Homo sapiens: one gene and its partners. Changing the gene in region 1 together with any one later gene gives a genetic interaction. Each region holds a gene or a part of one and is shown in the gene's direction. Other genes may lie near its edges. The genes, in order: CKAP5, NUDC, CTNNBL1, METAP2, PELO, SNRPD3 and LEO1.

Region 1 (4,370 bases):
TTAGTAGAGACAGGGTCTCACCATGTTGGTCAGGCTGATCTCAAACTCCTGACCTCAGGTGGTCCACCCACCTTGGCCTCCCAAAGTGCTGGGATTACAGGTGTGAGCCGCTGCACCCGGCCTCAGAGTTCTTTTGAGAATAAAATTTCAATACCCTTCTACATGGCTGTGACTATTTTGTTTTCCTTTTTACCCCCCTTTGTAGGTTGTTGGAAAGGACACCAATGTCATGTTGGTGGCTTTGGCAGCAAAATGTCTTACTGGCCTGGCTGTTGGGCTAAGGAAGAAATTTGGACAATATGCAGGACATGTAAGTAACACTCCTTTTTAGATACAGATCAACAAAATTTATCAAAAATGGTAGGCCTAGTTTGCTGTTTGCTTTAAAACAACTCCTTGGCATAGATGTGTATATACTGTACAAAGTAAATTTCTCTCTGTTTTGTTAATATTCAGCATAGATATATCTTAGAAATTTCAGTAGATGTCAGTTGTAACAAAATTTATAGGCCTTATGTAGAAAGTCAGGCACTAGGCCTAAAGTACTTAGTTGAGTTTATTTATTTGCTTATTACTTATTTACTTACTAGTATCTTGCTTTGTTCTTACAACATTATACACATCATAACAAGATGAAACAAAACTTGTAACGACCAGGACCAGAATGAAAATGAGAGTCGGAAAGGCAATGTAAAACTATAAATGTAAAACTGTGAGGTTAATATATAAAATGTGTTTTACATTGTTTTCCTATTTTAATATATAATTTACTTACATATTTGAGACATTTTATATAGGTTACAATGTTATATATTTTATATAGGTTATCTCCGTTTTACTTATTCAAAGAAAATCTGACTGGAGACATTTGTTGACTTACTATTTGTATAAGTTTGTTTCCAATCAAATTTGGTAATAATTTTAATTAAGATGTTTTCTTTAACTGTGGCATCTGTCCTTTGGCCTCTAAATCCGGTCTGCATTACTAAGAATGGCTCAGCATCCTAAAAATTGACCTTATTGATCTTTAGAGTTTAGCTTGCTAGCCCCTTCATCATTTGATTCCCTAGACTGACTTAGGAGTTTCCTAATAGTCCCTAGTCATGTGTCCATTTTATATTGTGAAGCTAATACCTAGCCTCACATGAGCTATGGTATTTGGAGCTTGCTTACTCATAGCATTAAAAATAATCTCAGAGAACTTAACTGAAGAAAAAGAAGACACTACCAAATAAAAATAAATCATGACTGGCTTATTACTAGGGAAATAAAAATAAGGGTCTGTAAAACCCTTAGACATATACATCATAAATTGAAATAAAATTAAAATCTATTTTTATAGCAATCAATATTATATAATATCGATGTGTATATGCCATTTTGATCAATTTTATATTACTTAGGATATTTTACACTTTTATATTGGGAATAATTTTTCAAGATAAAAAACAATTTTTTCCTACACCACTTAAATATCAGTTCAGAGAATAATTTTAGTTTTTTTTTTTTGAGACAGGGTCTCACTTTGTCACCCAGGCTGGAGTGCAGTGGCACCATCTCAGTTCACTGCAGCCTTAACCTCCTAGGCGCAGGTGATCCTCCCACCTCAGTCTCCTGAGTAGCTGGGACTTCAGGCACACCCCACACCATGCTTGAGTACTTTTTGTATTTTTGGTAGAGATGGGGTTTTGCCACCTTGCCCAGGCTGGTCTCGAAATCCTGAGCTCAAGCTATCTGCCTGCCTCAGCCTCCCAAAGTGCTGGGATTACAGGCTTGAGCCACCACACCCGGCCTAAAATTCATTTTAATTTACCAAATTATGGTTGGATAATTAACTGGCTTTCCAGTTTGAGTTCTGATTCTGGCTTTGTTTCAGTTTGTTGTCCTGGTTAAAGAATGTCTCTATTGCTCTGTAGTTTGGGGTCTCCCCCACCTTAATACTGTAATATATGCGGTGTTTAGTATCAAGCATGTTACTGACTTGGCTTTATTTTCTTTAAATGTTTACAAACTTTTTGGCAATATTTATAAAAGTGAATGTTAGCTTTATAGACATTAAAATATCTTGATTTTCAAGTTTATAACTAGTATTAAAAAGTCTTGTATTTTTCCATGGGAACCATAGTCCTTGAACTATACCAAGTAGTCTATAACCACTTCTGTGAAATCTTGAAAACAATTATTTCTTGTTTTTGGATGCCATTGAGCTTTGCTGTGTCCTTTGGACCTTAGAAATTTTCTTCCCCAGCCTGGGCAACATGGAGAAACCCCCGTCTCGACAAAAAATAAAATAAAAAATTATATTTACAGGGAAATGGTCAAGAAATTAAGAATTAAAAAAAAAAATAGCAGGTGTGGTGACATATACCTGAGGCCTACCTACTCGGGAGGCTGAGATGAGAGGATTACTTGAGCCCAGGAGGCCGAGGCTTCAGTGAGCCATGTTCATCCCACTGCACTCCCACGTGGGTGACAGAGCAGAGGCGGCAAATAGGTTGAGAAGCACTGCCATAGTGGGAGAGAATGAGAATTCTTCATTGTTCCGGCATAAGATACGATGTCCTTCATGAAAGGAAATGACTTTTTATTCCACTTAAATGTTTGCTTTATTGGTTTGTTTTGGTGGAGACAAGGTGGTTTTTTAGAAAGTAAGTTTTATTGAGATAAAACTTGCATACTATAAAATTTACCCTCTTAAAGTGATTTTAGAATATTCACAATGTTACATAACCATCAGCACTATCTAATTCCAGAACATCTTCATCACCCCAAAAAGAAACCCCTTGCCCATTAACAGTCTCTCCCCATGCTGCTCCCTGCCCTTGACTCTAGCAACCACTAATCTACTTTTTTGTCTCTGGATTTAACATTTCATGTAAATGGAGTCATACAATACATGGTCTTTGTGACTGCTTTTTTTTTTTTTTTGGAAGACAGGGTCTTGCTGTGTTGCCCAGGCTACAATACAGTGATGCAGTCGTAGCTCACTGCAGCTTTGACCTCCTGGGTTCAAGTAATCCTCCCACCTCAGCCTCCCAAGTAGCTGGGATCATAGGCACATACCACCACACCTGGCTAATTTTTTTTTGTTTGTTTTAGTAGAGACAAGATCTCACTCTGTTGCCCAGGCTGGTCTTGAACTCCTTGCCTCAAGCAACCCACCTGCCTCAGCCTCCCAAAGTGCTGGGATTACAGGCATGAGTCACTGTGCCCAGCCTGTGACTGGCTTTTTTTTTAACTTAGCATACTATTTTTAAGGTTCAGCCATGTTCTAGGATATATCAATATATCATTCCTCTTTGTTGCTGAATAATGTGCTAGCCATTCACTTTTACAGGTTGTGCCAACCATCTTGGAGAAATTCAAAGAGAAGAAACCTCAAGTGGTACAAGCCCTGCAGGAGGCAATTGATGCAATCTTCCTTACTGTAAGTTGACAGCATGAGTTTGTAGTTTTATCTGAAGTAAAGTTTGTAAATATAATATTTTGATTGTTCTTTACAATTGAAAAAAGCTCATTAACCACATTTTCTTTCTAAAGACCACACTACAGAACATCAGTGAGGATGTTTTAGCAGTAATGGATAATAAAAATCCAACCATCAAGCAGCAGACATCTCTTTTTATTGCAAGAAGTTTCCGCCACTGCACTGCTTCTACCCTGCCAAAGAGCTTGCTAAAGCCCTTTTGTGCTGCACTACTTAAGGTACAGACTCTCTTTGAAGTTGGGGGAATATTTTATACCTAGGCAAGATTCTTTTCCTGCAAATTATGTACAGTGACTACTTGACTTTCAGACTATAGAGGTTATGATCTTTTGAGGAGCAGAGCCTTTGCAGCTTGGAAACTGAATCCAAATTCTCCTGTGTTCCTCTTCTTGAAAGAAAGCACAAGTTAGTGTTATGATTCCATTAACTGTTAAACATGTTGTTTCTTACTTGTCCCATATACTGGTGTTCAGCTGAATCTGGCCAAGCATAGGCATCAAATGTGGAGTATTTGAAGATCATTTGGGAGTGAGTTATTTTAGATAGAGGGTAAGAGGAAAAGGAAATACTTATTTGCTAAATGGATTACCAAGGGTTTCCTTAACCCGAAAAATTTTTGTTTTTTTTTTTTTGTTGTTGTTGTTTTTGTTTTGTTTGAGATGGAGTTTAGCTCTGTTGCCCAGGCTGGAGTGCAGTGACACAATCTTGGCTCACTGCAGCCTCTGCCTCCTAGGCTCAAGCAATTCTCCTGCCTCAGCCTCCTGAGTAGCTGGGATTATAGGCATGTGCCACCACGCCCGGCTAGTTTTTGTATTTTAGTAGAGATGGGGTTTCACCATGTTTGCCAGACTGGTCTCGAACTTGGCCTCCCAAAGTGCTGGGA
Region 2 (4,370 bases), on another chromosome or scaffold:
CCTGGCACTGAGCAGTGGGGTCCTGTTGCCAACTGCTGTGCTCTTTGCCCCAGAAAAAGGATGCAGAGAATCATGAGGCCCAGCTCAAGAACGGCAGCCTTGACTCCCCAGGGAAGCAGGTGAGATGGACTGCAGGGACTTGGGATGAGCCAGGAGCTTGGAACTTACAGGAAATCTCCTGCCTACTGCTTTCTCTGGAATACCCTTCCTTATCCTATCCCCTCCCCTCCTGGCTTTGGGAATCTTCCCCATACTTTAAGATCACACTCAGAGACATTGAACCAAAGGATCCAGGTTAAAAAAATAAAAACCTGCCAGGCGCAGTGGCTCACACCTGTAATCCCAGCACTTTGGGAGGCCGAGGTGGGTAAATCACGAGGTCTGGAGTTCAAGACCAACTTGGCCAAGATGGTGAAACCCCATCTCTACTAAAAATACAAAAATTAGCCAGGCATGGTGGTGGGCGCCCGTAATCCCAGCTACTCGGGAGGCTGAGGCAGAGAATTGCTTGAACCCGGGAGGCGGAGGTTGCCATGAGCCGAGATCACGCCACTGCACTCCAGCCTGGGCGACAGAGCAAGACTCCGTCCCAAAAAAATAAAATAAAAACCGACTGACCTTAACCTGTTTATGGCAAGAAAACCCAATAGCCAGAGAGGGCAGTGCCTATTACAGGTCCCATCTGAGGTTGGCTGGGTTCTGTGGGCCCAGCCATATCCTTTGTCACATGGTATAATATTAATAGTCTGAGCTCCTCTCAGACTGAGATCAGAACCAAGTTTTACCTGGTTCCCAGTGGACCAAGGCTTGGGGGTCTGCCCCTCTGTGGAGTGGGCAGGGACCAGGTCTGTTTTCTTTTGTGGCTGTATGCCCAGTGCTAGCCCTGGGCTTGGCCCAGTGAGGGTTCAATCTGTGTCTTGTCTGTCAAGTAAGTAGCTGAGTGTCCCTGATTGTAAGCAGGATACTGAGGAAGATGAGGAGGAAGATGAGAAGGACAAAGGAAAACTGAAGCCCAACCTAGGCAACGGGGCAGACCTGCCCAATTACCGCTGGACCCAGACCCTGTCGGAGCTGGACGTGAGTGTCAGGGACCAGAGGTAAAGCTTAGGGGGCCAGCCTGGGGTACCAGCAGCACTTAGTGGCCTCTTCTGACTGCCTCTGCCCTATGCAGCTGGCGGTCCCTTTCTGTGTGAACTTCCGGCTGAAAGGGAAGGACATGGTGGTGGACATCCAGCGGCGGCACCTCCGGGTGGGGCTCAAGGGGCAGCCAGCGATCATTGATGGGGAGCTCTACAATGAAGTGAAGGTGGAGGAGAGCTCGTGGCTCATTGAGGACGGCAAGGTGGTGACTGTGCATCTGGAGAAGGTATGTGAGGCCCAGCCCTTCTAGCCTGGGGTGTTGATGGAAGTAGAAGGGAGGATGTGTGCTTAGTTTACTCAGGAGCCATGCTGGGGGCATTGTGGGATTATCTTAATCCCCATGACAACACTCTTTAAAGTAGATCTGTCTCTATTTTATTTTCTTAAAGACAAGGTCTCACTCTGTTGCCCAGGCTGAAGTGCAGTAACACCTTCTTAGCTCACTGCAGCCTTGAACCCTTGGGCCCAAGCAATTCTCTCGCCTCGTCCTCCTGAGTAGCTAAGACTACAGGTGTACACCACCACGCTCGGCTAATTTTTGTTATTAAATTTTTTTGTAGAGACCGGGGGGTCTCACTATATTTCCCAGGCTGGTCTTGAACTCCTGGCCTCAAGTGATCTTCACACCTTGGCCTCCCAAAGTGCTGAGATTACAGGCTTGAGTCAGGAAAAGAGCTCGTTGATTTACCCAAGCTCCTACCTCTGGGAAGGGGTGGAGTCAGAATTGAAAGTCTTAGTTTCTAAAGCCACTTCTTTTTCACTAGGTTTGTACATGCATTCAATTCATCAAATACTTGAACACCTGCTCTGTGCCTGGTACTGTTCTTGTTCTAAGTGCTGGAAAGAGAACAGTGAACAAAACATAGGAAAATATGTGCCCTCAGGAAGCCTTCATTCTCAACCTCACTGCCTTTACAGAGAGGTAGGACACAGAGATCAGTAAATAAAGGTGGTCTGAAAAGGGCCAAGGGTCTGAGGAGAACTTCCCAGGGCACATAAGACCCTGTAACAGCCTGTCCGACTGGCACTGGCTGCCTTCACTCACTCACCCCTCCATGCCTCTGCACTTGCTTTGTCGCCCAGGCTGGAGTGCAGTGGCGCGATCTCGGCTCACTGCGAGCTCCGCCTCCTGGGTTCATGCCATTCTCCTGCTTCAGCCTCCAGTGTAGCTGGGACTACAGGCGCCCGCCACCATGCCTGTATTTTTTTTTTTGTCTGTTTTGTTTTCTATTTTTTAGTAGAGACAGGGTTTCACCGTGTTAGCCAGGATGGTCTCGATCTCCTGACCTTGTGATCCGCCCACCTCGGCCTCCCAAAGTGCTGGGATTACAGGTGTGAGCCACCATGCCCAGCCCTTTCCCTGCCTTTTAAATTTATTTTTTATTTTTTGAGACAGGGTCTTGTTCTCACCCAGGCTGGAATGCAGTGGCGCAATCACGGCTTACTGCAGCCTTGACCTCCCGGGCTCAAACGACCCTCCCACCTCAGCTTCCTGAGTAACTGCGAGCGCCACCCTACCTGGCTAATTTTTAAATGTTTTTTGTAAAGACAGGGTCTCATGTTGCCCAGGCTGGTCTGAAACTCCTGGGCTCAAGGGATCTTCCTGCCTTGGCTTCCCAAAGTGTTGGGATTACAGGTAGGAGCCACTGCACCTGGCACTTCCCTGCTTAAAAACTTTTTCTGGCTGGGCGTGGTAGCTCATGCCTGTAATCCTAGCGCTTTGGGAGGCTGAGGTGGGCAGATCACGAGGTCAGGAGTTTGAGACCAGCCTGGCCAAGATGGCAAACCCCATCTCTAATAAAAATACAAAAAATTAGCTGGGCATGGTGGTGGGCGCCTGTAATCCCAGCTACTTGGGAGTCTGAGGCAGGAGAATCGCTTGAACCCAGGAGGTGGAGGTTGCAGTGAGCTGACTGCACCACTGCACATGGTGGCTCACACCTGTAATCCCAACACTTTGGGAGACTGAGGCAGGCAGATCATCTGAGGTCAGGAGTTTGAGACCAGCCTGGCCCAATATGGTGAAGCCCCGTCTCTACTAAAAATACAAAAATTAGCCAGGTGTGGTGGTGCATGCCTATAATCCCAGTTACTCGGGAGGCTGAGGCCGGAGAATTGCTTGAACCCGGGAGGCAGAGGTTGCAGTGAGCCGAGATGGTGCCACAGCACTCCAGCCTGGACAAGAAGAACAAGACTCCATCTCAAAAAATATATATATTTATTTTCTTCCCATTTTAAATCTGGAATACTGCTTTGTGTCTTAAGACTCAGCCCGAGTGTCACTTTCAAACTTTTCTCCCTCCACCCTGGATGAATATCTCCCTTTCTGCTTTCTTCTTTCCCTTATCACACTGATTTGTAACTCTTTGCCTCTGTGTCTCCCCTAGCTGCAGGAAGGGCACAGTCTTGTACCTCTGGATCCAGTGTAGGCCTGCAAGGGTCTCAGGTGCAGGATGTGGATGGGAGAGAGTTTGGTTGTGAAAGGGTTAAGGGGTGATTCCTGGTGCACAGAGCAGGCCACCTCCCACCCTCTGGTTGTTCTCTTCACAGATCAATAAGATGGAGTGGTGGAGCCGCTTGGTGTCCAGTGACCCTGAGATCAACACCAAGAAGATTAACCCTGAGAATTCCAAGGTGAGCCCTGGCTGGTTGGGGGAGCTTCAGCAGGAAGGTGAGGGGCCTCGTTGTTTCCAGAGCTTCACCGATTCCTGTCACTGCCTGCCCTCAGCTGTCAGACCTGGACAGTGAGACTCGCAGCATGGTGGAAAAGATGATGTATGACCAGCGACAGAAGTCCATGGGGCTGCCAACTTCAGACGAACAGAAGAAACAGGAGATTCTGAAGAAGTGAGCAATTCAGAGACGGGGTTGGGGGACCGTGGGTGCCTGGGGGCTTAGACTTCGGTGACAGCAGTGAGTGGATCACTGCGCTGCCTCAGGAGCTGCCCTGCCCCCTTTCCAGCCATGTTTATGGCTTTATGGCTTTGGCTTGCCTACTCTTGTCATTTGCTGAGGTCATCTTGAGGGCAAGGCCGGCTCATGGTGCATGATAGGAGGGAAGGGGTAACAGGCGGTCATTGCCACCTACAGGAAAACAATGCCAGTGTTGGTGCCTCAGCTTCCAGCCTCGGGACTCAAATGCGTCTCAGATACCCTGGGCCCTGCTCCTGCCCAGCCTGGCTTGGTGTTGCTGAGGTCTAAAGAGATTAGACTTGACACGGGGGTGCTGG
Region 3 (4,370 bases), on another chromosome or scaffold:
TCACTCTTGTTGCCCAGGCTGGAGTGCAATGGTGAGATCTCAGCTGACTGCAACCTCTGCCTCTTGGGTTCAAGCGATTCTCCTGCCTCAGCCTCCTGAGTAGCTGGGATTACGGGCATGCGCCACCACGCCTGGCTAATTTTTGTATTTTTAGTAGAGATGGGGTTTCTCCATGTTGGTCAGGCTGGTCTTGACTCCCAACCTCAGGTGATCTGCCAGCCTTGGCCTCCCAAAGTGCTGTGATTACAGGCGTGAGCCACTGCCCCTGGCCACGTGAAAATAATGTACAGTACCTTAACTTTTATGCTGATTACATGTTGAATAAATGATAACACTTACGATATATTGGATTAAAGAAAATATATTATTAAAATTAATGTTGCTTTTTAAAAAACTTTTAAAATGTGGCTACTAGAAAATGTAAAGTGGGCCGGGTGTGGTAGCTCATGCCTGTAATCCCAGCACTTTGGAAGGCTGAGGCGGGTGGGTCACCTGAGGTTGGGAGTTTGAGACCAGCCTGACCAACATGAAGAAACCATGTCTCTACTAAAAATATAAAAAATTAGCCGGGCGTGGTGGTGCATGCCTGTAATCCCAGCTACTTGGGAGGCTGAGGCAGGAGAATTGCTTGAACCTGGGAGGTAGAGGTTGCAGTGAGCTGAGATCATCCCATTGCACTCCAGCCTGGGCAACAAGAGCGAAACTCTCTCTCAAAGAAAAAAAAAAAGAAAGAAAATGTAAAGTTAGGTGTTTTGTTTGTGGCTTTTGTTGTATTTTTATTGGACAACACTCCTGTCGAAAATAACCCCTGGGAGTTGGGGACAGGACCTTTTACTTTATGTAATGTGGTCGAGGAAGGACACAGAGGAATGGGCATTAAAGGACTGAAGGTTGAGAGGGACCCAGTCATGTGAAGGGAGCAGAATGATGGAGGCAGCAAGAACAGCAAGTATGGACATAGGCTATTGGTAGAAGCTGGTGCAGCCTCATAGGGGACCAGAAAGAGGATCTATGTAGCTGAAACGGGAAGTGAGCAGGGGAATGGTAAGTGACAAAGCTGAAGATGTAGGCATGTGACAAGACTATGTAGGCCTTCCTTGTGGGCCACGATAAAGACCTTGACTTTGAGAGATACGGTAGATACCTTCATTCAACCCACTTGTTCATGGATGAAAGTGAACCTTAGTCTGATAAAGGGACTCACCTGAGGTTGTGGGCCAAGATGGTGGCCAGAGTTGAAACTAGAATCCTGGTCTCCTTATTATTATTTTTTAATGTTTACACATCTTACCACATTTAATCTTAATGGCAGTACTTAATATGTTAATATAGGAACCTTCATTTTAAAGATGAGGGAATAGGTATAGAGAATAAAAAACGTGTCCAGATTCACACAAGTGAAATGTACCTCAAGGATTCCAATCTAGGTAGCTTTGCTTCGTGATCATAAACATTTGTTTATTGTGTTATTCCAAAAGTATTTCATTTTGTCAATCTGACCCCTTTCCCCCTCACCAAGAGCAAATATGCCTAGCGCCTACAGGTAGATTGGGGTTGCCACAGGCTAATTTTCCTGAACTGCAAAATATTACTTGCCTTCCTTATCCTGGATCTTGGCCTTTACATTTTCTATTGTATCTGAGGGTTCAATCTAAGAGTTTTAAAATGCAAATATGTTGGTTGCACAATAAGGAACTACAATACTAGAACTCATTTAATTCAGGTTGACAACACTGAACTGAACCAGTAACAGGGCTGAAACCTCCTAAGTCTGCTACTGGAGAGCACTTTGATCTCGCCAGCCTAGGGCGGGCATGCTCATGTCCAGCTGGCCAGCCAGGAGCATCTCCTTCCCCATCGCAGGTTCCCCACTTTGGTTAATTGGCCGGCTAGAACCATTCGAGAGGTGAGAGGCCCACCCGTTAGGCACCAAAAACCAGCTCTAGGCCTTTGCTCAGCGAAATATCCTCAATTCAAGGCTAAGTTTCAGAACCCAAATTCAGAATCATGGTCTAAGGCTTGGAAAGCAGCACCAGTCCCAAAATCCACCTCAGGACCTTATTCAGGCCCTGGCTTCCTTACACCACCTGGCCCTTATCTCAGAATCCTGGTCTCCTTATTTCCAACTCTGTACATTCCCCATGTGTTCTGTTCATTCAGTTTTCTTTTTGTAAGATCCATGTCCACTCTTCCTGTTCCTAAAAGATGGTAAAGGCTGGAATGTAGTTCATAATCAGTTGCACCCATCCTCTTGCAGAAAGTCATGAGTTTATGGATGCAAAAGTTCTTTGAGGCCAAGCGTGGTTGTTCACCCCTGTAATCCCAGCACTTTGGGAGGCCAAGGCAGGCGGATCTCTTGAGTCCAGGAGTTCCAGACCAGCCTGGGCAACATGGTGAAAACCTGTCTCTACAAAAAGTTTAAAAATCAGCTGGGCATGGTGGTGTGTGTCTGTGGTCCCAGCTACTTAGGAGGCTGAGGAGGGAGGATTACTTGAGCCTGGGAAGCAGAAGTTACACTGAGCCAAGATCATGCCACTGTGCTCTAGCCTGGGTGACAGAGCAAGACCCTGTCTCAAAAACAAAAAACAAACAAACAAAAAAACTCCTTGAAAACAGTAACATTTTATAGACATGAAAGATGCTTTACTAACCAGCATGATCTATCTAAATCCTCATAACAACCCTATGAGGAAGGTACTGTTGTTAATCCCTGTTGTACAGATAAGGAAACTGAGGTACAGAAAAGAGCACCTACCTTAAGGCATCTAGCTAGGTAGAGGCAAGTCCAGGGTACCCGGGTAGTCTTACTTCATAGTTGGAGCTCCTAACCACTGTGCCATACTGCCTGCCTGCTATATGCCAGATGCAGAACCAAAGTGTTTTCAGACAAGTTATCACATTTAATTCTCAACATGCCTTCTGAGGTTGGCAGCATGCCTGTATTATAGGAAAGGAAACTCAACCTAGGGAGGTCAAGCTGCCTGCCGAAAGCCAGACAACCAGTAAGGAGCAGGGCCAGAACTGAAACCAGCTGAACACTCAGAGGTAGTTTTCCATTTTGTTTTCAGATTTGAAAACTTTTTAAAGTTGAAGTATAGTCCACATGTTGAATAATACATACATCTTATGAGCCTTTGGTTATAGTTATCATTTACAAAGTAGACTCAGTACGACCACTGAAGTTTGCTTCTCAGGGACATAAGGGAACAAAATTGTCTGATTTGAACATCCCCATCCCTAGAGTTTGATTCAGTCTCCTGTGGGACTTTAGATTCTGCATTTCTAACCAGATCCCAGGTGATGCTGATGCTGTACTTTGTGATCCCCTGGTCTAAAATGATCTCCCTTCCTTGAAAAATTTTCCCCAGCTGAGACATTCTCTTCCTCTCTTGTGGGCATTGGTTTGCAGATTTTTGAGCTTAAGTTGTACTTTTTCCCTGCCATTCAAGATATTGAGAGCAAATCACTTAATCTTCCTGGGCCTCAGTTTCCTCATATGCCTAATGAGGGGATTAAGTACGCGACTCTCTCTGAGGCCCCTTCTAGCTTTAAAATTCTGTGGTACTAATTATTTAGACCGGGGCTCCAGAGATTTCAAGGGATAAAAACGCTTCATGTGGTAGACTGAGTGGGGCTGAGAATCTGGGAGATTTGGGTTTTAATCCCACTTTTATCATTACTTATCTGGGTGACTCAGGACAAGTCACTTTCCCTTTCTATACATCATTTTTTTTCAATCGCTTGTAAAATGAGGAGACTGAGCGATATGACTTCTGGTTCTTTTCATTTCCAAAATTCAGAGACTAAGATGGATGCCGTTTCTAAAATTCAGAGACTAAGCCAGGAAAAATATCATGCAGTGTCAAGAAATGTTTATTAAAAGTATTTAACATTTTTTGGGTGCTTACTACATTTCATTTTTGGGGCGACTTGGTGGGAAGATTCCAATTTTCTGCTGAGATTGGTTCTTCTACAAGTAATAGAGATAGGCACTAAGCGCCTCAGTATATGCCGTATATCCTTGACATATGTTAACTATTCATTTGAGAAGACAGGAGAATTACAATATGGGCAGGAGGTGGTGGAAAAAGTCTTCAAGAGGGAACCAGTTATGTTCCCAATATGGAAATGTACTTTTTTGATGCCTTCAGGCTTAGACATCTCATCAAGAAGTGTGCCCAGCAGTGCCTTGGCTGAGAAGTTTCTGCTGGCATAGGCGCATATATGAACTCCAGGGCACTCTCATTAAATCTGATTCCACAGATGTCTGGAAAAAGTTCTTACCTCTGAAGTTTTCCAATAAAGAATTCACATTTAGTATGGCTTGTGACATGAGATGTATTCTTTTTGAGGCAAATTTGAGGCTAAGG
Region 4 (4,370 bases), on another chromosome or scaffold:
TCTTCTCACACATAGCTTGAAGCCTGTATTTTTTTTTTTTTTTTTTTTTGAGATGGGGTGTTGCTGTATTGTCCAGGCTGGTTTACAATTTCTGGGCTCAAATTATCCTCCCATCTTATCCTCCCAAGTAGCTTTGAAACTAATTTTTAGTAGTTATAGTAATGTTTGTTTACTTTCTAAAACCAGGATCCACTTGAGGTTCTCATTGCATATGGTTAGAGGCCTCACCTTTTTCTCTTTCTCTTCAGTGCCCCATCTCTTTGAAGAAACCAGGCAGTTGTAGAGGTCTCATGTTCTGGGATTTCTCCGATTGTTTCCTTGTTGGGGGTTAAACTTTTTTCTCTATTTCTGTGTTTTCCGTAAACTGGAATTAGGTGTTAATGGGCTTAGATTAGATTTAGGTTAAACATTTTTGACAGAGGTATAAAATAAGTGATTATGACCTTCACATTGTACCATATTCTGCTACATTAGATGTAATCTCAGGCTATCCTACTGTTAGTTTTATTGTGTTTGACCTCTTGATTAATGTGACAGCCAACTCTTTTTTTTTTTTTTTTCTTTTAAAGGTACTTTTTGCTTTTTGCAGTTTCCAAGTAATCTGTGGGGCTACTTTGGTATCATTTGGAATATCTATCTTCCTTCCTTTTCTTCCTATTTAGTTTATACAAACTTGAGAAGAAAGGAATATCCTTTTCTTAACAACTTTTCACTTAATTCTTTTAATATCCATTGATGATCCTTGCTTTTATGGGTTATTTCATTGGGAACTGCAAAATGGTGGATTTTTGATTCTTTCATTCCTTCTACATTTATTAGGTGATACTATTCTGTAAGAAGAATTTTCTCTGTCAACTGGGAATCAACTATAGTTCCTTCTTATAGGCAGAGTTAAAATATGCTTTATTTCTTACCCTTTAAGTACCAGTTTTTAGAGGAAGGATTTTATGTGATACATGCATACATTTTAATTGTTATTATTATGTTTTTGAGACAGGGCCTCATTCTGTCGCCCAGGCTGGAGTGCAGTGGTGCAGTCTTGGCTCACTGCAACCTCTGCCTCCCAGGCTCAAGCAGTTCTCGTGCCTGAGCCTCCCGAGTAGCTGGGACTACAGGTGTGCACTGTCTTGCCTGGGTAACTTTTTGTATTTTTAGTAGAAACAGGGTCTTTCTATGTTGCCCAGGCTGGTCTCGAACTCCTGAACTCATGCAGTCTGTCCCCCTTGCCCTCCCAAAGTGCTAGGATTACAGGTGTGAGCGACCATGCCTGGTCATTACTATTTTTTGAGATAGGGTCTCATTCTGTCACCCAGGCTGGAGTGCAGTGGTGAGATCTAGCTAAGTTCAGCCTTGACCTCTGGGGCTCAAGTGATCCTCCTACCCCTTCTCCCAAGTAGCTGGGACTACAGGCATGTACCACCTTGCCTGGCTAAAGTTGTTTTTTCTTTTTGTAGAGATGGAGTCTTGTTATGTTGCCCAGGCTGACCTTGAACTTCTGGGCTCAAACAGTCCTCCTGCCTCAGCCTACCAAATGGCTGGGATTATAGGCATGAGCCACTGCACCTGGCCTATCGTGTGTATGTATATGTGTGTTTGTGTGTGTGTGTGTGTGTGTGTATGTATATGTGTGTGTATATATTTTGGTGGAGACAGGGTCCCACTGTGTCACCCTGGATTGTCTTGAACTGTTGTCCTCAAGCAGTCCTCCCACTTTGGCCTCCCAAACTGTTGGGATTATAGGAGTAAGCCACTGTACCTGGCTTTAATTGCTATACTTTTGTTTAATTGACTGAACTAAATAAGATAAAATATAGGAAAATAATACTCTTAGTAAAGGTGTGTTGAGGCAGATTTTAAAAAAATTTTTAGTCCACTTATAAGGAGTTTTGGGGGAGTCTGGAATTATAGACCCTGACGCTGGGTTTTTCTTATTGTTAATAACTTTCTATCTGAACTCGAGACTTTGAGCAAAAGAATTTCTTTAATTCTGTTTCTTTTTTCTTTATTATTTATTTTTATTTTTTATTTTTTATTTTATGTTTTTAGAGACAGGGTCTTGGTCTGTTGCCCAGGCTGGGGTATAGTGGTGCAATCATAGCTCACTGTGTCCTTGAACTTCTGGGCTCAAGTGATCCTCTTGCCTCAGACTCCTGAGTAGCTGGGATTACAGGGATAAGCCCAACGCCCAGCTAATTTTTTTTGGTAGAGACAGAGTCAGAGACAGAGTCAGGTTGGTCTTGAACTACTAGCCTCAAGTGATCCTCCCACCTTGGCCAGGGTCTGTAGTTTAGGGCAGAGTTGAGTGAACTTTTTCTTCAAAGGGCATATAGTGAATATTTTAGGCCTTGAGTGTTACTTAGCTTTGCCATTGTAGCATGAAAATAGCTATAGACAGTACATAAATGAGTGGGCACATGTTGCAATAAAATTTTATTTATAAAACAGGGGAGGCAAATAGCAATTCCTTGAAGGTATCACTTTTACACTTGTGTAATTTATACTCAGTGGTCACTAAGTTGCAAACTGTATATTCAGTATTTAAGAATGTGTGAAAATTGTTTAGATTTTTTTTTTTAAATATCATTTTAAGGCAGTTAATGTTTTTCCTACTACAGGAGTCATGGATCTTATTCCCAGATACTGAATAAAAAATTCTGTCAGTTGGGGTGGCTCACGCCTGTAATCCCAGCCACTCAGGAGGCTGAGACAGGGGGATCACTTCGGGGCAGGAGTTCAAGATCAGCCTGGACAACATAGCAAGACCCCATTTCTTTAAAGAAAAAGTTTTTAAAAATTAGCTGGGTGTGCTGGTATGCACCTGTATACTCCCAGCTGCTTGGGAAGCTGAGGCAGGAAGAACCTAGGAGTTTGAGGATGTAGTGAGCTATGATCACATCACTGCATCTGCCTGGGTAACAGAGTAAGACCCTGTCTCTTAAAAAAGAAATTCGTTAGCACTGGCAGTTTTAAAATGTGAGCCATGTCTTTCAAGGAAGAATACCTCTTATATTTATGTATACAATTAGGAAAACCCAGCACACGCATGTAATATGTGTTTTGAGGAAGTATATGCAGATTTCCAAGTCAGTTTCTTGGGTTAGTAGTTACTCTGTTGGCAAAATTAAATGCAAATTGTTGTTGTGCTCCTTTGAAGTGTCTAAAGTATATATGACCTCAAGTGGAAGGATGACTTTTTCCTACTTACTCTGATTCTAGGACTCTTCAGACTTTTCTGATTGTTTTATTATCTTTTTGTGTTGTCAGGGTATTAGTTCCTCTGACTATGAATGAAATCTCACATGAGGGTTTTTTTCCCTCCCTTAGAGTCTTAAAAAGTTTTTAATTTCATTTGAGTTGGTTGCAAGTGTTTGGCTTTTTGTATTTCAGAAACTTTATTGACATAAACTGAATATGTACTGTATTTTTATTTGAACTGTCTTGTTACTTAGTATAGTTGTCAGCTTTTATGCTTGTTCTGCTGTTTTATCACTAATAGTATTCTATGCCCACTCTAAAGGCGAACAGCTGCTTGGAGAACTACAAGTGAAGAAAAGAAAGCATTAGATCAGGCAAGTGAAGAGATTTGGAATGATTTTCGAGAAGCTGCAGAAGCACATCGACAAGTTAGAAAATACGTAATGAGCTGGATCAAGCCTGGGATGACAATGATAGAAATCTGGTAAAAGGAATACTTCTTCGTAAGAACATGATAAAAAATGTTTTATTAAGTACTAACTCTCCAATTATAATGTTTGGCTTTCATTACCACTTTGCTAAATCTTTAAGTAAAGGTTGTAGAAATGCCTTCTAGATTATTTTAGTGTCACTATGAGAAAACCATGAAGAGGAGTACACATTGGCACCTCAGCCACCCTTTTGTGTGCACATGTAGTCATTACTGATTGTTATTTTCTATCTGGAAATCTGTTATTTTGCTATCTAACAAGTCATACTAAGAAATAAGAAAGTATTGGAGCAATTGCCCAAATACAGAACATGATGATAATACAGTAACAAAACCAATTCAAGTAATTATTCTCTAGTTTTTCCTTTTGATAAATGGTTAGTATAACATGTAATTCTCTGATTCCTACAATTTAAAAAATATACAACATGAACAAATAAGATCAGCATTTAAATTGGTCTAAGTTAGACTCTTATTTTCTAGTAAATTTAGTTAAAAGTGGATTGTGTTTCTCTGACTTTCTAGCAGAATCAAATTCCTTGTCTTCTAAAGATATGCTATTTTCATAGCATCAGAGAACTGTTATTTATTTATATTCAGAAAGTGCTCAGATCATTCCCAGAAGGTATTTAAGGTTTTTAGTAAACTTTCTGGACTTGATGAACTATATGGTATTAATATATAA
Region 5 (4,370 bases), on another chromosome or scaffold:
GGCACCAACAGCCTCACCAGATCCCAAAAACAGAGCTCCCTCCAAATGCTCTATCTTTAGAAGAGAGCTTCAGGAGAAAGGTGACAATAAAGTAATCATATAATGTTCCAGTTGCACAGGATTAATGACTCTAGCTTTGGCAAACTCTTAACTTTTTGTCATGTTGGTGGTAAGCTCCAGGGTTGTGTATATAGGAAGAAGACTAATTTTAATCAAAACTTTCCTATGATTTAAAAGGAAGATAAAAAAGTCAACTAAGTTTTAAAAGGAAATTAAAATGCATATGCTGGTTGGTGTTAGGAATTCACTTTATGTGTTAAAAAAAATCAATTTTATCCAAACAGGAGATCCCTATTAACAAGATAAGTAAGAGATCTGAAATGAGAAATCATTGTAATTCAAATATGCAAAGGAGTGGATACACATACTCTTTTTGTATGAATTATATGAGATCTCCTAAAATAAATGCAAATTCTTAAATTTAAATATAGCACCTAAGTCACTTTAAAACATCAATAGTTAAGATGGTTTATATATTTTGTTACAAATCATATATCCTTACTACAAATTAAATGTACTTTCAAAATTATTTTATTAATTAGACTTTTATTTTACCAAATACTAAAGTCTAGAAATACATGGGTACTGGCCAATCCTTAAAAATATCTGTGTAACACATTTTACTTATAATATTTTTGGTGAAATGATCTTATGCCGTATAAGAATACATGCAAATAGAAATACACACACACACACACACACACACACACACACACACTTCTGTTCATAGGATTTTGTTTATTTGGTAGGAGGTTTTGTATTATTTTGTGACAACTGCAAGTAAGCACTTTCCATCATGAGAAATTTAGATAGTGAGTGAGTACAAGTTCCTTAAAAAAAAAAACAAATAAAACAAACAAAAAAAACCACTTTCCCTTTTACCCTTTTGTCTATATTAGCTAACTAATCCTCCCAGTCATCCACTTAGCTTTGCTGGTGGAGGTCACATGGGAACCTTTGCACAATCTGAGGTTTGCACATTCTCTCTAAATAAACAATTGCGTTTATCACTAGATATTCATAATTGGAGCTCTGGCTTCTTATTTTGTAAAGTTCACTTTCCAAACCATGTATAATAAAACTAATTGCCATTATGTGTTATTCTAAAATATTTTAAGAACTTTTCCTGGGGAAGATGTATTTTAAATTACCATTTTCTTACCTAAGCACGGCTATCTCAAATATTGAAATAGGCTTATACAAACTTACCTTAAGAGTAACCTTCTTTTTAAGTTTTTAGTAACATTATAAAACAGAATGTGATTTCCTAATTTTAGAATGTCAGTTACAGACAAGTTAAAAACTCTGAATTAAAGAAAAATTAATAACCATTAATTTTTGCATACTAAAAATATGAGTATGTGCCACTTGTTATGCTGTGTTCCAGGAGAACAAAGACAAATAAAAGGTAGTAAGTCTCTGCCTTTACTGGTGGAAGAGGTAGTAGACATGGAAAGACACAATGGTGGGAGAGGCTCCCAAGGTGCTTTATAAGGAATAACAAAAAGATTAGGTTTGTGTTGCAGGAAAGTAAGCCTTCCAAAATAAAATACAAGATGAAAACAAGAAAATTTATACAGCCCCGACTGTTTAAGGGTCACAAGCTAAGCAGAGGGTATTAAAACAAGATTTCCATCTTTCAGGAGCCCATAATTCCATTTCATGTCATACAAACCATTTCTTTTATATTATTATAATAGGAAAGATAGTAATTCAACTCACCAATGAGGTCCATGAACCATTTTATTCAGTAGAGCTGAATAACATAAATAACATAAATAAATGTACCCCAAAGATTATCCATCAGTCAACTCTACCAAACCAGTTATTTTTCCAAGGCTGAATAATTATGATCATGTTAAAATGAGCTCTTGTCCCTTGTTTTGTCTGATCCAGTTTTCTAGCTTCAAGCCAGGCATTTTTAGAGCTCTATAATTTATTAATATCAAGTATCATAATATCACTAGGACCTCATAAGGATGGTCAAATGAGAGAGCAGGACAAATAATCTTATTTATCATTTAGAATGAAAAATAATTAGCTTTATTGCGGTCTGGGACTTATTTCAAGTTGGTAGAATCCATCCAGGAAAGACCATATTTGAGGTCTGCCAATTCTTGGTCCACAAACAAGAAACTTTGAATCAGTCTTTCACCTCTGAAATGGGTCTTAGAAAAATCAGATTTGAAAGATAGCACGCAAAATTGAAAACAAATATGTTAGGATGAGATTATAGGTGTTGTTTAAACACTTAAAAAATATTACTGCAGCATAATTTTTAGTTAGAAATTTAATTATTGAATTCAATTCCCTCAATTCTTCAGTGAAATAAATTGGGTTCCAGAGAGACTGAGTACTGCCAAAAGTTACAGTAAAAACAATTGAAGAGTAAGAGCTACAATCCAGGATGCTTGACTTCTAGCCCAGTTCTCTTCTTGAGACACTGGAAGTGTCTCAAGAGCAACAAATTAAAAACTTTTGGAGGTAACAATACTTTTTTCCCCTTCTGGAGAGATTAATATAAATAAGACATTGTAGGGAAAATAGATATAATTAAAGTTACTGATATAAAGATTTATACTGATATAAAGTTACTGATATAAAGTTTTCTATTTTAAACAGCCAATACATAAGTATAAAATTAGTATTTAAAGCAAAAGAGCTAAAAGCCCTGGTATTTTTCTCAATACTTTGCTCATTTGGAAAAAAATGAAAATAAATATATAACTACAGCAGTTTCTGAACTACCATTATTAAGTGAAATACAGTCAATAACAATATAAGTAAGTGCCTTAAGAAATGTCTTGAAATGTCTGTAATAATGTTAAAATAGCTGCCATACTTTACATTTGACTCACCTAGCTTATCATTAATATATGAGTGCCTACTATGTGCAAAGGACCTTTAAAAGGACAAAGGAGTATAAAGATAAATCCTTCCAGAGTTCAACAAAAAAGATACATGTTTAAATTAACATGGATTCAAGTTTACATGGTTTCAAGTTTGAGATAACATTTAAGCTGGACTTTAAAGATAGGCAGCACTAAAGGAAGCAGGGATGAAAGGAAGTGACATTTTAAACAGAGAAGTTAGTATGAGTTAAGGTAGCAAACGAGAAAGTTCCTAGCATATGTAGGGAACAAAGGTTACTTTCAAGGTGGAATATAGGGTGCCCTGAGGGGAAAAGTGGGAAGTAAATTTGTAAGGCCAGTGCAAATTGGGATTGTAGACGTTAATTCATAGGGAATGGGAATCCAAAATGAATCAAAATAAAAATATAATGATTGGTCTAGAAATACTAAGCCATAAACAAAATCTGGGTGAAAACATCTAATAGTCAACTACAGGCTTAAATTACTAAGGAAAAAAAAAAGTTCCCAACTATTGCAGTTGTTTCACATACAACAGTAATTCTATGAAAGATTTTATAGTATACTGAATTATGGAGGCACACTGATATTTTTTAAAATGGCCCAAAGTGGTTTGCCTCATAACTTAAAAAAAAATTTTTTTAACCATGGATTTAAGAGTCAATAAGGGTTTTTCACAGGTTTCTAATGTACAGATAAATATATGTATATTTTTCTAAAGTAGAACATTAGATCTTTCTCTAAGAGTATGATGATGACCTAGGCTGGACAGAAGGAAAAAAAAAAACTATGTAGAAGAGAAAAGTATAATAATTTTAAGAGGTGATAAAAGAGCAGGAAAGGGACTAGTGCCTTTCAAATCCTCTAGGTTGGTTCCCAAGCTGTGAGTTTTTGTTTAGCTGGTAAAGGTGACAGTTGAGGGGAAGTGACAGTGGATAATAGCACATAATTTGCAGTGAAGGAGATGATTACAAACATTCATAATATAGGATGGTGGTAGTAGAAAGAGAGGGTATGGAGTTATGCAGGCCTGAATTTCAATGCTAGTCATGTGATCTTGAAAACATTTCTTAACTTCCCCATAGTTGATTTTCTTCTATAAAATTAGGATAACAAATATTTACCTTACAGGGGAGAATTAGAGCATAGGAAAGAACTTGATAAACATTCAATACGTGATAGCTCTTCAATAAAAACCTTTTGTTAAGATCCCACTGTGTGCTTACCACTGTGATTCTGTGGCTTTTAATCTTTGGCAGACTATGGGAAAGATAAATTGTACTTAGAAAGATGATCAAGGAGCACTTCAAAGCCCCAGTTCAAAATTATCTCCTCATTCTCTCTCTCTTTCTCTCTCACAAATACACACACAAGCACACTTTCACCCTACCAATTAGGAATTTTAAGTTAACAAGATACTTTTTTTAAAATACAGTGTCC
Region 6 (4,370 bases), on another chromosome or scaffold:
CTCACACACACACAAAAGCACACCACAACGATTCGGAAAAGATAAATAGAGGATCTCACTCTGTTGCCCAGGCTAGTCTTGCACTCCTGGACTTAAGCGATCCTCCCACCTTGGCCTCCCAAAGTATTGGAATTACAGGCCTAAGCCACACCTGCCCTGTTTTGGGGTTTTAGTATTTACTTTTTATTCTATCCTCTTTCAGAAATAGTTAGACCCTGTCTCTTCTGAAAAGCAAAAAAGTTTAAAAATTATCTGGATGTGGGGCTGGGCACTGTGGCTCACGCCTGTAATCCCAGCACTTTGGGAGGCTGAGGCGGGCAGATCACGAGGTCAGGAGATTGAGACCAGCCTGGCTAACACGGTGAAACCCTGTCTCTACTAAAAAAAATACAAAAAATTAGCCAGGTGTGGTGGCGGGCGCCTGTAGTCCCAGCTACTCGGGAGGCTGAGGCAGGAGAATGGCGTGAACCCAGGAGGCAGAGCTTGCAATGAGCCAAGATCGCGCCACTGCACTCCAGCCTGGGCGACAGAGCAAGACTCCATCTCCAAAAATAAAAAATATATTATCTGGATGTGATGGCTTATGCCTGTAGTCCCAGCTACTCCATAGGCTGAGGCAAAAAGGATCACTTGAGCCCACCCAGCAGTTCAGGCTGCATTAAGCTCTGGTCGCACCACTGCACTCCAGCCTGGGTGACAGAGCAAGACCCTATCTCTAAAATTAAAAAAATTCTATGGCAGGATAAAAGTAGATGCATAGATCATGGTGCAGGTAAGCTGGGGTAGAATGTAAAATGAAGCCAAGCAGTCAGTATCCAGAAATGTAAACCTGAATCTCTCTGTACATTGAATAAAGGTATATTCCAGTGTAAGATTAAGCAGGGAAGATCATCAGTTCCAAAATGCATAGTGTTCTTAAGTTAAAATAGCAATTGTGTGGATTTCCCTGGCACTCAGATACAGGAGACACTATTAGATGATATCCTCGACAACATCCCCATACAAAATACCCTTTTATGGTCCCTCAAGTAGTTTTAAAGTATCCTGTTATCTTAGCACTGTTTTTGACATTTGAAAATGCAAAATATGGCCAGGCACATTGGCTCATGCCTGTAATCCCAGCACTTTGGGAGGCTGGGCCAGGGGGATCACTTGATCCCAAGAGTTTGGGACCACCCTGGGCAACACAGTGAGACCCTGTCTCATATATGTGTGTGTGTGTGTGTGTGTGTGTGTGTGTGTGTGTATGTGTGTATGTATGTATATATGTATGTATATATATGTGTGTGTGTGTGTATATATATATATATTTTTTTTTTTAAAGGAAGAAGAGGAAATATGTGTATGTGAAACTCAGGATGAGGTCCCTGAAATGGTGCTTATCGGGTCAGAGGGTGTGCATCTGAGGTTAAGCTGGGAAGGCAGGGAGCTTTTGTTCTCCTTCTCATTCCGACAGCTGCAAGCCAAGCACTGGTGGCCAGTGCTGCAGGATAGGGCATCAGCTGCAGGATATGGCATGTTGGTCAAAATGCTGTTGGCATAAGTGAGAAAAATAACAATACTCCAAAATATGTCCCCAGTTTTATAAAAATGGACCCAAATTATAAATGATACAAGCAAATACAGAGAGTAATGGTCAAACCCATTTCACTACATTCAAAATGACTTAATTCTTAGAAGTTTTGGTGGGAGAATGTGGTGTAGAGCTCTGCACAAGCAGACATTGTGCTTTTGGGGCTTCAACATGACCACCCAATCACTGATGGGACTGTTTGAAATCTGTTTTGTTGGCTTTGGCATATAATAGCCATCTTTGGAAAACTGGTCTCTGTATGGAATATGGTCTTGTGTCACTGTATAAAAATGAGAACCCAAAAGAAGCTCTCACATGATTGGGTCAGAAAATTGCCCATAACTATTGCTAGGAAAGTTTTTGAAATCTCTGAATTCAATGTAATTGAATTTCTTTAGACACCTAGCCCTCTAGGTTGAAGGAAAACCAGTTTTTTAAACTTATCGTATACTTTTTTTTTCCTGTACTGTTTGTGTGTGGATTGCATTCATCATGCTCCTCTACCCCATAATACTTTTGTATTTCCTAAGAACAAAGATAGGTAGATGGCCTTAGTTGGTATTCGTATTATAGCAGTGGCATCCAAGCACCTCTGCCTTTGTGTATGTGTGAAATTGTCCTAAAGAATGCATTTCTGGTGTATTGACAGGCCTGAGACACCCCAACACACCTTCACAGTCCTGGAGCTAGCTTTCTCCATCTTGGCCCCAGGTATCTAAGAAAGTCCCACCACTTTGTGCTACAAAGATTCTCTCTCTCCCCCTCAGGATGTCATTTCAGTTGGGTACCTGGCTTATACCATATGTGTTTCATTGTGGCTGTTGAGGAAAGTTGATTAAACTGGGTGTTCCTGCCTGGAGTTGATTAGGATCTGGTTCACTCAAAAGTTGCTGCCTTGGGCTTGTGATACAAACACAGGTCAGGCTTATTAGCAAGCTCTAGCAGGCATGTGTGCAGTGAGACTGTGGGGTTTTGTCCACAGCAAGCTGTTCTTAGCCAGTGCTACAGGGAAAGCGAGAGCAGTAGTGAGCCTGGTTGTTAGGGTTAAAATAGGAGTCAGAGGACACTGGACTCTCCTGCTTCAGCCAGGACATAGTTCATTTATGGAAATGCCTAGATTAAGTCTTGTCGGACTTATGCAACAGCTTCTGTCAGGAAAGGAGTGAGATGTGCCCCTGTGCTGGAGGGAGTGTGGCTTAGCAGTGGCACAGCTCCCAAAACACATTTTAGCTGTCAATCAGATTTAGCATGTACTGAGTCTCTATTATGTATTAGGCAATAGAGACAGCATTTAGACATACTTTGCCTTGTTCATTTTTTTTTTTTTTTTTTTGACAGGGTCTTACTCTGTTGCCCAGGCTGGAATGCAGTGTCATAATCATAGCTCACTGCAGCCTTGAACTCCTGGGCTCCAGCCATCCTCCCACCTCAGCCTCCCAAGTAGCTGGGACCACAGGCATGCACCACCACACCTGGCTAATTGTTAAAAATTTTTGTAGAGATAGGATCTTGTTACATTTCCCAGGCTGGTCTCAAACTCCTGACCTCAAGCAGTCCTCCCACCTTGGCCTCCCAAAGTGCTGGGATTACAGACATGAACCACTGTACCTGGCCTGATTTGCTTTTTAACAATTTCAGGAAATGTGCAGTGGTTAAGAGTGTGAGTTAGAAAGAACTGGGTTCAAACTCCAGCCAGGCCATGTAAGCGTGGTGTGACCTCAAGCAGGAGAATAGAGGGAAAGGGCATGGGTTTCTGGGGACAGATCTGCCTCTGAATGGCTATGTCACTTCATCTCTTTACCTTGTAGGATTTTGTGGGGTAACATGAGCTGCCGTGGGGAAATCACCTGGGCCAGCACTTGATGTCTAATAAGTGCTCAGTAACTGTTGGCTTTGTTGTCTTGTATTTTCAAAACTCAGCTTTGTAGTTGAGGGAACGGAGGCTCAGGGAAGCCTGGAGATATACCTAGGGTTACACTTCTGACAAATGGCAGAGCTGGATCTCACCTATAGGTCTTTAGGCCTATTTTGTGTCTTCTACAGAGTCATGAGTGTGGCACAGTCCCCAAAACACGTTTTTTGTTTGTTTGGTTTGTTTTTTGTTTTTTGAGACGGCGTCTTGCTCTGTTGCCCAGGCTGGAATACAGTGGCGTGATTTTGGCTCACTGCAACCTCTACCTCCCGGGTTCAAGTGATTCTCCTGCCTCAGCCTCCCGAGTAGGTGGGACTACAGGCACCTGCCACCACACCCGGCTAATTTTTGTATTTTTAGTAGAGCCAGGGTTTCACCGTGTTTGCCAGACTGGTCTCAGGTGATCCACCCACCTCGGCCTCCCAAAGTGCTGGGATTACAGGCATGAGCCACCGCGCCCAGCCCCAAAACACATTTTAATTGTCAGTCAGATTCAGGTGAGCCTGAGTTGTATCCAGTTTCTGTCTTGGGTAGTCTGACCATAAACCTGGCGTTCATTTGTGGCACTAGAGGTTATGGTATTCTTCAGGGGAAGAAAAGGATTGGTAAGGACTTGGGAACTGGATGAAAATTTAATAACAGGCTGGGAGTGAGGAGCCTGGAGCAGAAGGTTTATGAGAAACTGGAGCCCTGTTGCCCCTGAAGGTAGAACAGGGATAGTGGGTAGAAGCTCTAGAAACCATTCCTCTAGAAACTGCTCATATACAACAGGGGCGGCCCCAGAGCATAGTTTTGTTTGTTTTATTTTTGAGAGGATCTTGCTCTGTGGCCCAGGCTAGGGTGCAGTGGCTCCATCACAGCTCCCTGCAGCCTCGACCTCCCAGA
Region 7 (4,370 bases), on another chromosome or scaffold:
ACGCAAGAATGCGATTGCATCTGATTCAGAAGCGGATAGTGACACTGAGGTGCCAAAAGGTATCCCTATTATTATATATATATGTATATTTCCATACCTCTTTCTGTATTTAACTGTAGTGCATTTCTAACCCTGAGTGTGTTTACCCCAGATCGCCAGACCCACAGAATAAGAGTGTGGATACGCTCAGTGTACTCAGAGAAGTTATATAGCTATGAGAAGCTGCTCATGCTTAATTAGTTGAAGAAGAACCTGCCTCTTTGTAGTTTTTTTTTTTTTTTTTAAGAGACAGAGTCTTGCTCTGTCACCCACGCTGGAGTGCAGTGGTGCAAGCTCAGCTTATTGCAACTGCTGCCTCCTGGGTTCAAGCAATTCTCCTCCCTCAGCCTCCTGGTAGCTGGAATTACAGGAACGTACCACCATGCCTGGCTAAATTTTTTGTATTTTTAGTAGAGGTGGGGTTTCACTATGTTGGCCAGGTTGGTCTCGAACTCCTGATCTCAAGTGTTCCACCCACCTCAGCCTCCCGAAGTGCTGGGATTACAGGCGTGAATCACTGCGCCCAGTCTGTTTATAGTTAGAGTGAATTCATTATTAGGGGGCTGACCTTCTTATTGGGATGGAGGTTACAATGTCCATTCTTCACTTTGAATAATGACAGTCTCGGTGTTTTGTTCCTAAGTTCTTGACTTAGATGAAGAAACTGATTCTTTGAGCTGTGAGTTAGATGAAGAGCTCATAAAAACCCAGTGTTGGCTGGGTGCAGTGGCTCACGCCTGTAATCCCAGCACTTTGGGAGGCCAAGGTGGGTGGATCACTTGAGGCCAGGAGTTCAAGACCAGCTTGGCCAACATGGTGAAGCCCTGTCTGTACTAAAAATACAAAACATTAGCGGGGCGAGGTGGTGTGCATCTGTAGTCCCAGCTACTTGGGAGGCTGAGGCACGAGAATCGCTTGTGCTCGGGAGGCAGAGGTTGCAGTAAGCCAAGGTCGCACCACTGCAGTCCAGCCTGAGCAACAACAGTGAGACTCTGTCTCAAAACAACAACAACAACCGCAACCACCACCACCACCACCACCACCACCACCACCACCTGGTATTATAAGTTGGAAGGATGAAAGGAGTTCTACCGCCAGGTGTGGCAGCTTCCTTTCTCCTGCCTCAGCCTCCCAAGTAGCTGGGATTACAGGCACCTGTCACCAAGCCCAGCTAGTTTTTGTATTTTTAGTAGAGACGGGGTTTCACCATGTTGGTCAGGCTGGTGTCAAACTCCTGACCTTAAGTGATCCACCTGCCTTGGCCTCCCAAAGTGCTGGGATTACAGGCATGAACCACTATGCCTGGACTGTAATTTTGAATCTGGGATAGACTTATGGAAAATGGGTGTCTGTGGAGTGCTTCAGCCCCAACTTTGAGCATCTAGACTGTAGGAAACATTTGGGCTCCTGGGGAATAAAGGAAAGTGGGAGAACAAGGATGGTGAAAATGAAAGGAGAAATAAGTGCCTCCTGTGCAGCTTGCCTTTCACTAGATTTGCCCCCTTCCCTCTCCCCACACTCTCTGGTTGGGTCTTTGAGAGCCAGGCTCAGCATTATGTTTTTGGTGGTTTTCTGATGCTGGTCCAGAAACCTTGGGAATGTGTTGAAGTGATCAGCTGTGAAGAACCTTAGTTACAGATAGTAACACTAATGCCTTTTTCCTTCTGCATTGAAGATAATAGTGGAACCATGGATTTATTTGGAGGTGCAGATGATATCTCTTCAGGGAGTGATGGAGAAGACAAACCACCTACTCCAGGACAGCCTGTTGTAAGTCAGTTAGTAACATGAACTTATTCAAGGCCAGGCATAAAGTTTCAAAGGTGAAGAGTCTCCCTTATTCCAGGAAAGGAAGTTGATAACTGAATTCTAGTATGAAAATACCATGAACAGATGACTTTCTTCATTATGTAGGGAACTCTTGGTTATAAGGGGGAGTGGAAATAACTGCCAAACATGAGGTTGGTGTCATGCCTTAGGGGACTGAACTGTGAGGACTTGTGATTTGAGAACCATTGACTTGAATGTTTTTCTTGCTCATGCCAAGAAGTGTCTGCTATGTTGATAATCTTCTCTGGTTTTAATTGATAGAGTGACTTCCTATTGAAGTGTTAATTTCACACTTTTGTTGAGTATTTGGAAGACAGATTTATCATAAAGGAGATAGTTTTTTGTACTGAGGTATCCAAATTGATCGTTTCCCATTTTGTGTGTAGGTGGGTTGGGATGGGGACTGGGGACTTCTTTAGTCCTAAAGTGATATCTAATTATGTTTCTTGCACCCCAGAGTAATTAAAGTGTGGAGGTTGAAGGAAGCCATTTCTAAGGTCCTGTCAAGCTCCAAACTTCCGATTCTTTCACTAGGATGAAAATGGATTGCCTCAGGATCAACAGGAAGAGGAGCCAATTCCTGAGACCAGAATAGAAGTAGAAATACCCAAAGTAAACACTGATTTAGGAAACGACTTATATTTTGTTAAACTGCCCAACTTTCTCAGTGTAGAGCCCAGGTAAGGAAATCAATTAAAATTTTTTCAGGATGTTGAGTAGAAATACATAGAATGTTTATTTTTCTTATTTCGCATTGAGTTGACAAATCACAAAAACGGAAAATTGATCGTGTATCTCTGAAAAAATTAGTCAAGCACATCCTGAGATAGAAAAAATATGTATTAGTAAGGGAGGCTTTTAATGCTATGATTGTTTTTAGCAGTTTGATACTTTCTTATGAATTAACAGACACCACAAGTGTTCAAGGTATTTTTTTAATTAGTACAACCCTGAAAAGGCTGAAATTGAAAGCGATGAAATTTGCTAGAGAAATGCCAGTGTCCACTGTAGCAGCTATTGTTGGTCTAGAAAAGGTAATGGTTTTGGACAATTAGACAGTGTTTGATGGGTATTATTTACTAAGTTTACTCGAGCTCTTGTGCTTTTAAAATTTTTTTTCCACAGGCACAATGATGTGGAAAGCTAGAGCATATGTTGCCTATTCTTTGGCAGAGTTACATAAGAAGAAGAAAGGATATTTTGAATATTTACCCTTGCTTGTACTTTATTTCAAGCAATATGTATTAACAACAAATTTTAAGAAGTAAAATTACTGGCCGGGTGTGGTGGTTCACACCTATAATCCCAGCACTTTGGGAGGCCGAGGAGGGCGGATCACCTGAGGTCAGGAGTCTGAGACCAGCCTGACCAACATGGAGAAACACCCTGTCTCTACTAAAAATACAAAATTAGCCAGGCATGGTGGCGCATTCCTGTAATCCCAGCTACTCGGGAGGCTGAGGCAGGAGAATCGCTTGAACCTGGGAGGCGGAGGTTGTGGTGAGCCGAGATCGTGCCATTGCACTCCAGCCTGGGCAACAAGAGCAAAGCTCGGTCTCAAAAAAAAAAAAAAAGAAAAAAGTACAATTACTACTTCCTTGAAGTTAAGCATGAAGATATTGATCATTATGATTTTTAAAATTATATTATGATTTTTTGATATAATGGTGTTTATTAATAGAGATGTTATTACATAGCAGTAATATTCTTTATAAAATATGATTAATAGTTTATTTGGAAAACAATTTGTAGACCTTTTGATCCTCAGTATTATGAAGATGAATTTGAAGATGAAGAAATGCTGGATGAAGAAGGTAGAACCAGGTTAAAATTAAAGGTACCATTTCATGCTTTTTCCTTTTTTTTCTTTTATAAAGTAAAACCTGGAGATACTAACTTGAAACTTGAGCTTTTGAAAGTGATTTTTTTACCTAACACTTCACTATATGGCTGTGTTCTTTTGATTGCTTTTGTTGACTATTAGGAAAGAATTTTATTGTACTAAATTCCCATTAATGCTTCTCTTTGATACCTTATACCATCTGGTCACGCTATCAAAGGAGGGCCTCTAATCTTTTAAGTAAGGAGGATGTAGGTTCAGCAGAAGTTTCATCTTTTTATTTTGAGACACGGTCTTGCTCTGTTGTTCAGGATGGAGTACAGCGGCACAAACCCAGCTCTTGGCAGCCTCAATTTCCTGGGTTCAAGTGATCTTCCCATCTCAGCCTCCTGAGTAGCTGGGACTACAGAAAACATGCCACCATGCCCAGCCTTTTTTTTTTTTCTGTAGATATGAGGTCTTGCTGTGTTGCCCAGGTTGATCTTGAACTTCTGAGCTCAAGTGATCCTCCCGCCTTGACCTCCCAAATTGCTGGGATTACAGGCATGATTGCTACTGCACTTGGCCAAGTAGACATTTTAGAATTGAGTTGCACAAGGGAACAAGAGGTGGTTGAATGCATGATACTGAAACTGGAATTATGCATTTTCAATTCTTAAAT

The links.
Region 2: changes in CKAP5 (region 1) and NUDC together harm fitness more than expected from each alone (negative genetic interaction), as found in Homo sapiens cells (one large-scale study listed by BioGRID).
Region 3: changes in CKAP5 (region 1) and CTNNBL1 together harm fitness less than expected from each alone (positive genetic interaction), as found in Homo sapiens cells (one large-scale study listed by BioGRID).
Region 4: changes in CKAP5 (region 1) and METAP2 together harm fitness more than expected from each alone (negative genetic interaction), as found in Homo sapiens cells (one large-scale study listed by BioGRID).
Region 5: changes in CKAP5 (region 1) and PELO together harm fitness more than expected from each alone (negative genetic interaction), as found in Homo sapiens cells (one large-scale study listed by BioGRID).
Region 6: changes in CKAP5 (region 1) and SNRPD3 together harm fitness more than expected from each alone (negative genetic interaction), as found in Homo sapiens cells (one large-scale study listed by BioGRID).
Region 7: changes in CKAP5 (region 1) and LEO1 together harm fitness more than expected from each alone (negative genetic interaction), as found in Homo sapiens cells (one large-scale study listed by BioGRID).

Annotation. Positions count from the first base shown.
Region 1 is NC_000011.10:46,797,140-46,801,509, reverse strand, and holds part of CKAP5 (cytoskeleton-associated protein 5), read left to right. Parts: intron 1-205; coding exon 206-310; intron 311-3,337; coding exon 3,338-3,427; intron 3,428-3,540; coding exon 3,541-3,705; intron 3,706-4,370. UniProt on the Homo sapiens protein: Binds to the plus end of microtubules and regulates microtubule dynamics and microtubule organization. Acts as a processive microtubule polymerase. Promotes cytoplasmic microtubule nucleation and elongation. Plays a major role in organizing spindle poles.
Region 2 is NC_000001.11:26,941,700-26,946,069, forward strand, and holds part of NUDC (nuclear migration protein nudC), read left to right. Parts: intron 1-53; coding exon 54-119; intron 120-960; coding exon 961-1,077; intron 1,078-1,171; coding exon 1,172-1,366; intron 1,367-3,690; coding exon 3,691-3,774; intron 3,775-3,868; coding exon 3,869-3,987; intron 3,988-4,370. UniProt on the Homo sapiens protein: Plays a role in neurogenesis and neuronal migration. Necessary for correct formation of mitotic spindles and chromosome separation during mitosis. Necessary for cytokinesis and cell proliferation.
Region 3 is NC_000020.11:37,696,472-37,700,841, forward strand, and holds part of CTNNBL1 (beta-catenin-like protein 1), read left to right. Parts: intron 1-4,370. UniProt on the Homo sapiens protein: Component of the PRP19-CDC5L complex that forms an integral part of the spliceosome and is required for activating pre-mRNA splicing.
Region 4 is NC_000012.12:95,490,539-95,494,908, forward strand, and holds part of METAP2 (methionine aminopeptidase 2), read left to right. Parts: intron 1-3,517; coding exon 3,518-3,679; intron 3,680-4,370. UniProt on the Homo sapiens protein: Cotranslationally removes the N-terminal methionine from nascent proteins. The N-terminal methionine is often cleaved when the second residue in the primary sequence is small and uncharged (Met-Ala-, Cys, Gly, Pro, Ser, Thr, or Val).
Region 5 is NC_000005.10:52,793,759-52,798,128, forward strand, and holds part of PELO (protein pelota homolog), read left to right. Parts: intron 1-4,370. UniProt on the Homo sapiens protein: Component of the Pelota-HBS1L complex, a complex that recognizes stalled ribosomes and triggers the No-Go Decay (NGD) pathway.
Region 6 is NC_000022.11:24,561,998-24,566,367, forward strand, and holds part of SNRPD3 (small nuclear ribonucleoprotein Sm D3), read left to right. Parts: intron 1-4,370. UniProt on the Homo sapiens protein: Plays a role in pre-mRNA splicing as a core component of the spliceosomal U1, U2, U4 and U5 small nuclear ribonucleoproteins (snRNPs), the building blocks of the spliceosome.
Region 7 is NC_000015.10:51,958,078-51,962,447, reverse strand, and holds part of LEO1 (RNA polymerase-associated protein LEO1), read left to right. Parts: coding exon 1-59; intron 60-1,714; coding exon 1,715-1,809; intron 1,810-2,403; coding exon 2,404-2,549; intron 2,550-3,621; coding exon 3,622-3,706; intron 3,707-4,370. UniProt on the Homo sapiens protein: Component of the PAF1 complex (PAF1C) which has multiple functions during transcription by RNA polymerase II and is implicated in regulation of development and maintenance of embryonic stem cell pluripotency.